Linked DNA regions of Homo sapiens: region 1 is linked to region 2. Evidence: fine-mapped expression QTL. A gene starts in region 2. The other region holds a variant in brackets. All regions are shown on one strand. Distances are from middle to middle.

Region 1 (5,366 bases), 21 kb before region 2:
CAGCTACTCAGGCTGAGGCAGAAGAATCGCTTGAAACCAGGAGGTGGAGGTTGCAGTGAGCCGAGATTGCACCACTGCACTCCAGCCTGGGTGACAGAGCAAGATTCCATCGCAAAAAAAAAAAGCTAACATGTGACCACGATGTGCCAGAGCTGGTGCTGTGTCTGGGGAACTGATGCTTATGCCCCAGCACCTCTGAAATGTTGGGTAAATGGAGGCAGGGCCACCCAGCATGCTCCTGTTGAAGGCTGGGACTCCTCAGCCCTTCCTCACCTCTGCTGATTGACAGCACGCCCCACACCCCCAGGTTTTTTGTAGCCAGTGCTATCTGGTCAAAGGGTCAGTGGGCCTCTTATGGCCAGGGCTTCCTCCCGGGGTGATGGGTCTGCTCTGTGCCAGAAACAGAGGACACAGCGCCTCCACAGCACTGCTTCCCCACTCATCCTACCCTAAGGAGCGCCTCATCTGCCATCATTCATTCATTGGTTCATTCCACCAGTAATTCTTAAGTGCCTACTCTTACTAGGCACTGCCTCAGCTCTGGGATTACAGAAGTGAACAAGGCAAGATTTCTCCCTCCCCCAGCTATGGAATTTATATTCCGGTGAACAGGAATAAATGATGGATAGATGGATACCAAAATTTCAGAGAGTATCAGGGGCTCTCAGTGGACTAAGGCAAAGGCTGGAGCAGAGGGTTCTCTTTATTTAGATCGGGTGGTCAGGGAAGGCAACATTTGAGCAGAGACCTGAACAAAGGGGACCCAGCTTTACAAAGATCTGGGGAAGGGGAACAGTGGGGCACATGCCCTGAGGTGGGAGTGAGTGTGTCTCACTGGAGAACAGCAAGACCAGAACAGCAGGCATTGAGGCAGAGATGGGAGGAAGTAGGATCAGAAAGGCTGGCAGGAGCCAGATCACATAGGACCTTGGGGGCCATGGTGAGGACTTGGGGTATTTTATTTGATGTAGTGGAAGCCATTAGAGGATTTGAAGCAGGGAGTGACATGATTACATAAAGATTTTGAAGGGGGACTGACTTAGGCCCAGCCTGGGAAATACAGAAATAAAGCATAAAACCATGAGATGTTCCCTCTGTCACAGGGTTTCGATACAAACAGGAGAGGTGGGGACCTAAGAAGGGAAAACTTCTGCAGAGGTGGAGTTACAGACTAGGAATTTACAGTGGGGGCTTCCAGGAGGAGGTAACACTGAAGCCCGCCCGGCCTTTTTTTTTTTTTTTTTTTTTTTTTTTTTTTTTTTTTGAGACAGAGTCATCTCACTCTGTGACCCAGGCTGGAGTGCAGTAGTGTGATCACAGCTCACTGAACCTTCCGCCTCCCGGGTTCAAGTGATCCTTCCACCTCAACTTTCCAAGTAGGCAGGGCTACAGGCGTGCGCCACCAAGCCTGGCTAATTTTTGTATTTCTAGTAGAGACGGTGGTCTTGCCATGTTGGCCAGGCTGGTCTTGAACTCCTGACCTCAGGTGATCCGCCTGCCTTAGCCTCCCAAAGTGCTAGGATTACAGGCATGAGCCACCGCGTCCAATCTGAAGCTGGGCTTTAAAGGATGGGCAGGATTATCAATTGTGTGACCCTGGGTGATTTGCCAATCTCTGCCACCTTCAGTTCCTTCATCTGCCAAATGGGCATGATAGTAGAACTACCTTACTATTATTATTATGACTGGGAAGTAGCCAGGAATGGCAAAAAGAAAAGTGGAGAAATTCGGAACAATTATGGCAATATCACACACTAATAATAACAGCTAACACTTTTAAAGGCCCTATTGCTTCAGGCAATAAATTTTTACTATAACGCTAGAAGGTAAATTCTGTTACGAGCCCCATTTCATAGAGGAGAAGTCTCGGTGTGAAGATTAAAGTAAACTGTACAGGGTTATGCACCTAGGAAGAAGCAGGGCTGAGACTCAAACCCAGGCAGCACACTGTATACTTTGGAGCCTCTATGTGATAGAAGGTAGTAAAATATCTCAGCAGTTAAGAGATTGAGCTCTGATGACAAAACTAATTCAAGCCTTTGTCCTGCCATTTTCTAACCATGTGACCTCTTGGCCAAGTGACTTCTGAGCCTCTGTTAGCTAGTCAAGAAAAATGGGTTGTGGCTGGGTGCAGTGGTTTACTCTTGTAGTCCCAGCAATTTGGGAGTCCAAGGCTGGAGGATTGTTTAAGCCCAGAAGTTTGAAGCTACAGCAAGCCATAATCACACCACTGCACTCCAGTCTGAGTGACAGAAAAAGACCCTGTCTCTTTATTTATTTATTTATTTCATTGAGATGGAGTCTCGCTCTGTCATCCAGGTTGAAGTGCAGTGGCACGATCTCGGCTCACTGCAACCTCTGCCTCCTGGGTTCAAGTGATCCTCTC[A/G]CCAAAGCCTCTCAAATAGCTGGGACTCCAGGCACCCGCCACCACACCCAGCTAATTTTTGTATTTTTAGTAGAGACAGGGTTTCACTATGTTGGCCAGGCTGGTCTCGGTCTCCTGACCTCAAGTGATCCACCTACCTTGGCCTCCCAAAGTGCTGGGATTACAGGCATGAGCCACTGCTCCTGGCCAACCCTGTCTCTTTAAAAAAATAAAAAAGGGCTCGGGGTGGGGGTCATTCATGAGTCAATTCCTATAGAGAGCTTAGCACAGTACAAACACTAGCCATGATCCTCATGGCTGTTAGTGACAACCCGGGTAGAAAGTAAGCTAGAACCATCCAGTATGTTTAGGGAATACTTCAGTCAGATTTTGTCACGATCATGCTGTGTAATAAGCTACCCCCAAAACTCGGCATCTTAAAACAGCCATTGTGTATTACTGCTCCTGCATTTGCGGACCAGCTGGAGGGTAAACTGATGGAGGCTGGGCTCAGCTGGAGAGGCTTTGCTCCAAGTAGCTCTCATCTTCTTGGACAAGCAGGCTAGCTGAGGCATGTTGTCATGGTGATGACACAAGTGCAAGAGGGCCAGCAGACATGCAAGGCCTGGGCTTGGAATTGGCACCCTGTCATTCTTAGCCAAAGCAAGTCATACGGCTGAGCCAGAGTCAGGGTGCACTCTGCCTTTGTTTTTGTTTTTGTTTTTGTTTTCTCGGAGACAGAGTCTCGCTCTGTCACCCAGGCTGGAGTTCAATGGCGCAATCTCAGCTCACTGCCACCTCCACCTCCCAGGTTCAAGTGATTCTCATGCCTCAGCCTTCCAAGTAGCTGGGATTACAGGTGAGCACCATGATGCTCGGCTAATTTTTGTATTTTTAGTAGAGATGAGGTTTCACCATGTTGGCCAGGCTGGTCTCGAACTCCTGACCTCAAGTGATCCGCCTGCCTTAGCCTCCCAAAGTGCTGGGATTACAGGTGTGAGCCACCGTGCCTGGCCATACTCTGCCTCTTTAGCAGAAAGAATGGCAAAGTCTCATGGCAGAGTGTGGACACAGGAAGGGGTAGAATTGGGACCCTGACTGCAGTGTGCCACGGGGGTGATAGACACGAGGGGGAAGCCACGTTCCTCCCTTCTGCCCCAGGTTTGCACTTCCTGCTTCCAGGGTAGCTGGGAACTCAAGGCCTGGAGGACTAAGGCCTTGGCTGTTGTTTCTTTTTTTTGAGACGAGGTCTCACTCTATTGCCCAGGCTGGAGTGCAATGGCAAGACCATGGCTCACTGCAGCCTCAACCTCCCAGCCTCAAGTGATCCTCCCAACTTAGCCTCCCAAGTGGCTGGGACTGTAGGCATGCACCACCACACCCAGGTATTTTTAAAAAGTTTTTGTAGAGATGAGGTCTTGCCATGTTGCACAGGCTGGTCTCGAACTCCTGGGCTCAAGTGACCCGCTTCAGCCTTGGCTGTTGGTTCTTGACCATTCATGGAGCTCCCCAAAGCCCAGGACAGAATCAGGAGGGCAGAGGACACAGGAGGAGCTCCCTACTCCCTCATGGGAGCCTGGGACAGGGATTAGACCTGGGCGGAGGGGCTCATGGATGTTCCAGGCCAGGAAAGGACCTGCCACAGAGCGGGGCAGCCTGAGGCAGTGAGAGGAAAGACGTGTTTCTAGCTGAGGCAGCGGGCCAGAACACTTGGGTCTGCGGCGTGGCAGGTCTGGGGTGACCCACCTTTCTTCCCACCCCACAGTCCTGATCCTGGAGGCCATCGAGAACCACAACCTCGCAGACACGGTGCTCAAGATCACGGACTTCGGCCTCGCCCGCGAGTGGCACAAGACCACCAAGATGAGCGCTGCGGGGACCTACGCCTGGATGGCGCCGGAGGTTATCCGTCTCTCCCTCTTCTCCAAAAGCAGTGATGTCTGGAGGTGCTGAAAGGCGCGGCCGGGATGGCCTCTGGGGAGTAAGGGAGGGAGGAAGGGGTGAGGGCAGAGTGGGAGGGAGGGTCTCCTGCTGAAGCCAGGATCTCAGTCTGACAAAGGGACCTGCTGGCAAGGTCAGGCCACCAGACAAGTGCCAGTTACCTGTTCAGCTAGCACAAATGGCAACTAGGGGGCACACTGGATTAGAATAAAAAGCTCATAGGATCTAGAGACAAGGCCGGGCGCGGGGGCGCACACCTGTAATCCCAGCACTTTGGGAGGCCGAGGTGGGCGGATCACTTGAGGTCAGGAGTTTGAGACCAGCCTGACCAACATGGTGAAACCCCATCTCTACTAAAAATACTAAAATTACCTGGGCGTGGTGGCAGATGCCTGTTGTCCCAGCTACTCGGGAGACTGAGGCAGGAGAATCACTTGAGGCCGGGAGGCAGAGATTGCAGTGGGCTGGGATTGGCCACTGCACTCCAGCCTGGGTGACAGAGCGAGACTCTGTCTCCAAAAAAAGAAAAAATTTAAAAAAGCATAGAGACAGCACATGGATGCTAGCACTGAAAGCCCCCTCAGACACTAGCCCATGCACTGTCCCATCTGTCAGACAGGAAAATGATTAATTCACTCATTCATTCCTTCATCTAACTGCACCGGGTTCTAGGGATATAGCAGAGAAGAAAAATACATGCAATCCCTGCCCTCAGGAATAGTAAGTCAGTCAACATACAAGAAGCTCTTTTTTATAAAGCTGTTTTTTAAGAAAATTATAATTTTTAAAGACAAGTACACCAGAAAAAAGTGTTAGTACAAAGTGCGAGGAGGCTGAGAGGAAGGCACTTTAAGGGCTGGAAGACTACTTTTGGGAACGCTTCTCTGAGCAATCTGAGAAATGATACTTCATCTGAGTTCCAAGTGGCAAAAAGGAACCAGTCACGAAAAGTTTGGAGGAAGAAGGAGGTGCTGAGGTGAGCATGGTGTGTCCCAGAAACAGCAAAGAGGCCCATGTGGCTGCCACTGTGCAGGCAAGGAAGAGAGAGGTAGGAAATTAT
Region 2 (5,366 bases):
GCCGGCCCCCTGAGTTCCCAGGCCGCCCCACCACCCTGACCTTTGCCCCGAGACCTCGGCCGGCTGCCAGTCGCCCCCGCTTGGACCCCTGGAAACTGGTCTCCTTCGGCCGGACACTCACCATCTCGCCTCCCAGCAGGCCAGACACTCCGGAGAGCCCTGGGCCCCCCAGCGTGCAGCCCACACTGCTGGACATGGACATGGAGGGGCAGAACCAAGACAGCACAGTGCCCCTGTGCGGGGCCCACGGCTCCCACTAAGGCCTGCCCACCACCGCCCGCCTGGGCAGCCATGAATGTAGCGCCCCAGGCCCTGCCCCAGCCCGCCATGCCACAAGGTGGGGGAGGCCCTGGGCAGGATGTTCACTCTATTTATTGGGGAAGGAGGGAGGGGGGGGACACTTAACTTATTCCTTTGTACCCCAGGGGGTGGAGCCCTGTGCCCACCCTGCACTGGGGGGAGGGTGGGCAGGGATACTCAGGGACAGGGCATCATGGGGGATTTGGCACAAAATGGAGCATTAAAGGTAACCCCTGCCCCCTACCGCACTTGATTGTGTTCCTTTTTCCTTTTTTTTTTTTTTTTTTTTTTGGAGACAGAGTCTTGCTCTGTTGCCCAGGCTGGAGTGCAGTGGCACCATCTCAGCTCACTGCAACCTCCGCCTCCTGGGTTCAAGTGATTCTTCTGCCTCAGCCTCATGAGTAGCTGGGACTACAGGCTCCCGCCACCACACCCAGATAATTTTTGTATTTTTGGTAGAGACAGGGTTTCACCATGTCGACCAGGCTGCTCTCAAACTCCTGACCTCAAGTGATCCACCCATCTCGGCCTCCCAAAATGCTGGGATTACAGGCGTGAGCCACTGCGCCTGGCCTAGACTGTTTCTTTCCCTGGCCCAGGCCCTGATGCTGGGTCATCCCAGTGGAACATTCCCCCCGACCCCACACACCCTCCCTGGGCTTCTCTGGGTTTCTAAGGTCCAAGGGATGAGGCCCTCCCTGGTCCCCCCAAGAACACCACACAAGTTATGATCACCAGTGACAAGTGTTTTACCAACAAACACATGAGTCGGGGGAAGTTACATGGTGAGGTGGGAGGGCGAGGGATAGAGAGGTCCCCCTGGATTGGCCTCAGCCAATTACATCCCGAGTCTGGGACCCAGCCCCACTGTCTTCCCGCTGGAGGCTGCAACGATTCATCTTCAGCTGAGTCAGCTGGATGTAGCGGAGCACATTGGTGTCTGCAGGGGAGGTGGGCAGGGCATCATCTGGGTGTCCCGGGGCAGCAGGTGACTTCCACACCTCCCTGGCTCACACCCCATTCTCCGAAGTATCCAGCAGCTCGCTCACACAGCCAGTAGAGCCAGAGCCCTTCCCCAAAGCCCCAGTCACAGTCGGCAGTCCCCAGTCACAGCGGAGCCATCGCACACCTCTGTGCGCCTGTATTTGCGGCACCCTCTGCCAGGAATGCCTCTTCGCAGAGGCTCCCGTCACACTTCTCATCCTCCAGCGACATCTGCAAGAAGTCTGTTCTCTCCGAGCCACTTAACAGGAAAACTAATCTCGTCTCGGCTCCCACAACCCTGCACCTGTTGTAATCCCTCTTCCTTCTTCATTGGCTCTTAATACAAAACTGAGTGTTGTGTCTGCCCTCCTGCACTCATGTGTGTAAGTGCACACATGCACGCACACACACACACACCCCAATTTCCTGGCATCGTCCACCCGAGTGGATGAGTGGATGGTGCAGGAAGTGAATGAATAGGTGTGCGTGAATGGGTGAGTGGAGGAATGAGTGTGTGCGGTAGGCAGGGGTGGGACGGGGTAATGGAGATGACAGTGGGTGGATAGGGAAGTGACTGAGCAGGTGAATAGGAGATATCAGATGTGGCAATGACGGTAGATGAGAAATGGCCGGGGAGATGTCAGAGGAGCGATAGGTGGACGGATGTTTGAATGGCGGGTGAAGGGCGGGGTGGATGAATGGATGAGTGGGCGTGTAGGGAGTAGGTGGGTGGCGCAGCCCTACCTAGAAGCAGCTCCGCGGGAGGAGGGCTCTGCTATTCTGCCCTGATCTTCCTGCCTGTTCCCTCCGCTGCAGCCCCTTTCCCCGCCCTGGGCCCAGCCCTCACCTCTGCCCCGCCCCGCCACTCACCTGTGGGTTCCCGGCTGCGGGCCTCCTGCAGGTAGCGCAGCGCGCGTGCGTAGTCGCCCAGGTGGTAGAAGGCAATGCCGGCACGGTAGGTGGCCTTGAAGTTGCCCTGCTGCTTCTCCAGTACCTTGAGACAGTACTCGCGCACGCGCTCGTAGTTTACCAGCTCCGACTGCAGCAGGCAAGCTGCGAGGGCCCCGCGGCCGGCACTCTCAGAGCCTGCTGGCACCCCCAGAACCCACCTGACTGCGAGGAGCCGAGGCTCCAGGCGGCAGGGAACCAGGCCTAAGGGATTGCTCCGGCAACCAGGGGCGCCAATCCGCTCGCCTATCGAAACAGGCGCAACTGCGCCGCTGCTAGGGGGCGCCAAAACACGGACAGGCGCCACTGGGCGATCCACCCAGAGCTGTCGGTGGGCAAGAGCACTAAGGCCCCGCGCGGGGGCGAGGGCCGGGACCTCGAGAGCCTGGCTCAGGGCAGACTTCCTCACCTTGGGTCCACGTGCGGCCAGGGGGTGGAAAGAATGACTCAGGGGAAGCGAGGCCCTGAATACCCGACCCAAAGACCATTTCCTGCATCCCAGCTCCCTCCAGCCACAGACCCCTGTCATCCCCTACCCCTAATCCCTTTCCTTGATCAAGCTCTGAAGGCTCCCCCAGAAGCCCACAGCCCTGGACCCTTCAGCCCCAGGGCCCCTGGCCCCCAAGTCGCCAAGCTCTCCCGATTGCCCCCTCCCCTCGTGCCCCATCCCCCCACCCCCCGACGGCGTACCCGTGAGGGAGTCGTAACACTCCACCTCCGTGCTCTCCACCAGGCGCCGCTGCTCCTCGCTGAGGCGCGCCGGCCCGGGGCTGCTGGTGGGCCCGGGGGCGGGGGCGGGCAGGCCGCTAGGGCGGGCCCCCTGCGCCGCCTTCAGCTGCAGCAGCGCTCGGTGGTACTTGCCGATGGCCTCCCGGAACTTCTTCTCTCGATAGCAGCGCTGGCCCTCTGCCTTGAACGCCACGGCGGCACGCAGGCTGCTGTCGAGCGCCGCGCCCAGGCTCCCCGACGGCTCTGGGGTAGGACCGGGACGAGCCGAGCCATGGCGGGAGCCCGAGCCTGGGCCCGAGCCCGGTGGGGAGAGGGCGGGAGGCGGGCGCGGCGGAGGCTCCGGGGCAGCGCTGAGCATCAGCACCGGGGACAGCGCGCCGCGCTGCATTGTGGGAAACTCCTGCCGCCGCCGCTGCAGCTACCGCATCGCCCCCCGCGGGGCTGGTCCCCACCCTTTCTCCGCCCCCTCACCTCCGGCAGCCGACTCCGGCTGCCCCCTATGGGTCTAGGGAAACCCCTCGAGACTTCCCCCATGCTCACTCTCAAATTAACCAAGTCCTAGTTCTCCAGCCCGCCCCCCGAATTGTTCCCATTCCCCTTACCCTCCCCAACCTCCTGCCTGCTCTCCTCCCCGGTGCCCAAAGCTCCCGAAGATTTCTAGAAGGAAAGGACGAGCCTGGGGGAAAGAGCAGGAAGACATCAGCCTCACGGAAAGCTGGCTCTCAGCCCACTGGCCATTTGGCATATCGAATGAGAACACAGGATTTGGACCCAAGCTTCCCAAATTCAAATCCCTGCTTACTTTCTCACTAGTGGTATGACTTAGACAGCTCGCTTAAACTACCTGGAACTCTGTATCCTCATCAGTAACATGGCACAATAATATCACCTTTAGGGCCAGTCGAGGTGGCTCACGCCTGTAATCCCAGCACTTTGGGAGGTCGAGGTGGATGGATCGCTTGAGGTCAGAAGTTTGAGACCAGCCTGGCCAATATGGCAAAACTCCGTCTCTACTAATATACAATATATACAAAATTTTTGTATATATACACAAAAATTAGCCTGGTGTGGTGGCGTGCACCTGTAGTCCCAGCTACTCGGGAGACTGAGGCAGGAGAATCACTTGAACCTGGGAGGCAGAGGTTGCAGTGAGCCGAGATTGTGCCACTGCACTCCAGCCTGGGTGACAGAGGGAGATGCCGTCTCAAAAAAGGAAAGGAAAGGAAAGGAAAGGAAAGGAAAGGAAAGGAAAGGAAAGGAAAGGAAAGGAAAGGAAAGGGGAAAGGGGAAAGAGGAAAGAGAAAAAAGGAAAGGAAAGGAATTAAAAATAATACCACCTTTGGGATTCATCTGTTAATTTATGAAACAAATATTCACTGACATCCTTTCTGTGCCCAGCTCTGTGCTGGATGATGCTGGGACATAGCAGACACTGCGTGAGCTTCAGACCCTACTCTCACTGGGCCCCAGTTCAGTGGGAAGACAGACCAGTGACCAGACAGTGACAGCCCTGAGCAGGCTAGCCTGGGAAGCACAGGCAGAGGGGTCGGGGCCGAGGTGGAAGAGGCACAGGCAGAGGGGTCGGGGCTGGGATGTGGGAGGTACCTGCCCTGGGCTGAGGTGGTGATAAAGTCTTCCTGGAGGAGGGAATAACTCTAAAAACAAGAGAGATCTCCTTCTTGCCCTCATCCAGCTCGGCTGTCTATGGGGGAAAACAAGTGAGAGGGCAAACAAGTCCCCAGGAAAGGAAGCATGCAGGAGGCTTTCAAGAAAAAAATCGAGGATGAATGAGTCAACTGCCCTTCAGTCCTCCTTTGCCGCCTCCTTAGCTGTGGGACCTGGGCCAAGTTCCTCGATCCTCCTCCTTCGGCTTCGTCTGTGCGACATGAGGATAGAAGGCAAGTTAACCTCAGAGCGGTTGCAGAGACTGAATTATCTTATGCAGGTAAGGCACTTAGCACAGGGCTTCATACATTAATGGGCAATTAACAACTGGTGTTTCTTATCGTCCATTAGACTCTGAGTCATGTGATCATGAGTGCCTGGCTCTGAGTCAGCATCCATATATAGTTGTTGAATGAATGAGTGTGTGAGTGAATGGCATTATGCATTACTACTCCTCCCCCTCCTCTGAGACTCTAGCTTGGGTCTCAGCCCCAGGCCTCCCCACTCTCCCCAACTCCACCCCCACAGCACATCCTCTAGCTGGAGGTCCCATGGCAGGTCACATGTGACAGACAGAAACCAGAACTCAGCACCTTCCATCTCAACCAGAGCATCTGCCTCTATCTCTTATTGTACTTTGCTGTAAAACGCTTTTGCTGAGTGAGTTTCTCCCTTATCCCTGGGGTCCAGCCTTGAACACCTCAGGGGTGCAAACATTTTCCTCTCTGCATCTCCAAACC

The links. PIP is the estimated chance that this variant, and not a neighbour inherited with it, causes the effect. A credible set is the group of variants that fine-mapping cannot tell apart.
Region 1: its variant is the best candidate, but not a certain one, in a credible set for the expression of TTC9B in cerebellum (GTEx, PIP 0.81).

What each region holds. Positions count from the first base shown.
Region 1 is chr19:40,194,245-40,199,610 of GRCh38, forward strand. It overlaps MAP3K10 (mitogen-activated protein kinase kinase kinase 10), which reads left to right. Exons shown (of 10, transcript NM_002446.4): 2 at 4,131-4,311. Among named protein-coding and RNA genes, the nearest start is that of MAP3K10, 5.5 kb to the left of the region's middle. The variant A/G (reference allele first, on the strand shown) is at 2,387.
Region 2 is chr19:40,215,033-40,220,398 of GRCh38, forward strand. TTC9B (tetratricopeptide repeat domain 9B) reads right to left here and starts at 3,352. Exons shown (of 3, transcript NM_152479.6): 1 at 2,923-3,352; 2 at 2,155-2,337; 3 at 1,026-1,240. The coding sequence starts at 3,349. The coding sequence ends at 1,131. It overlaps MAP3K10 (mitogen-activated protein kinase kinase kinase 10), which reads left to right. Exons shown (of 10, transcript NM_002446.4): 10 at 1-543. The coding sequence ends at 260. RefSeq lists enhancers at 2,220-2,810, 4,389-5,366.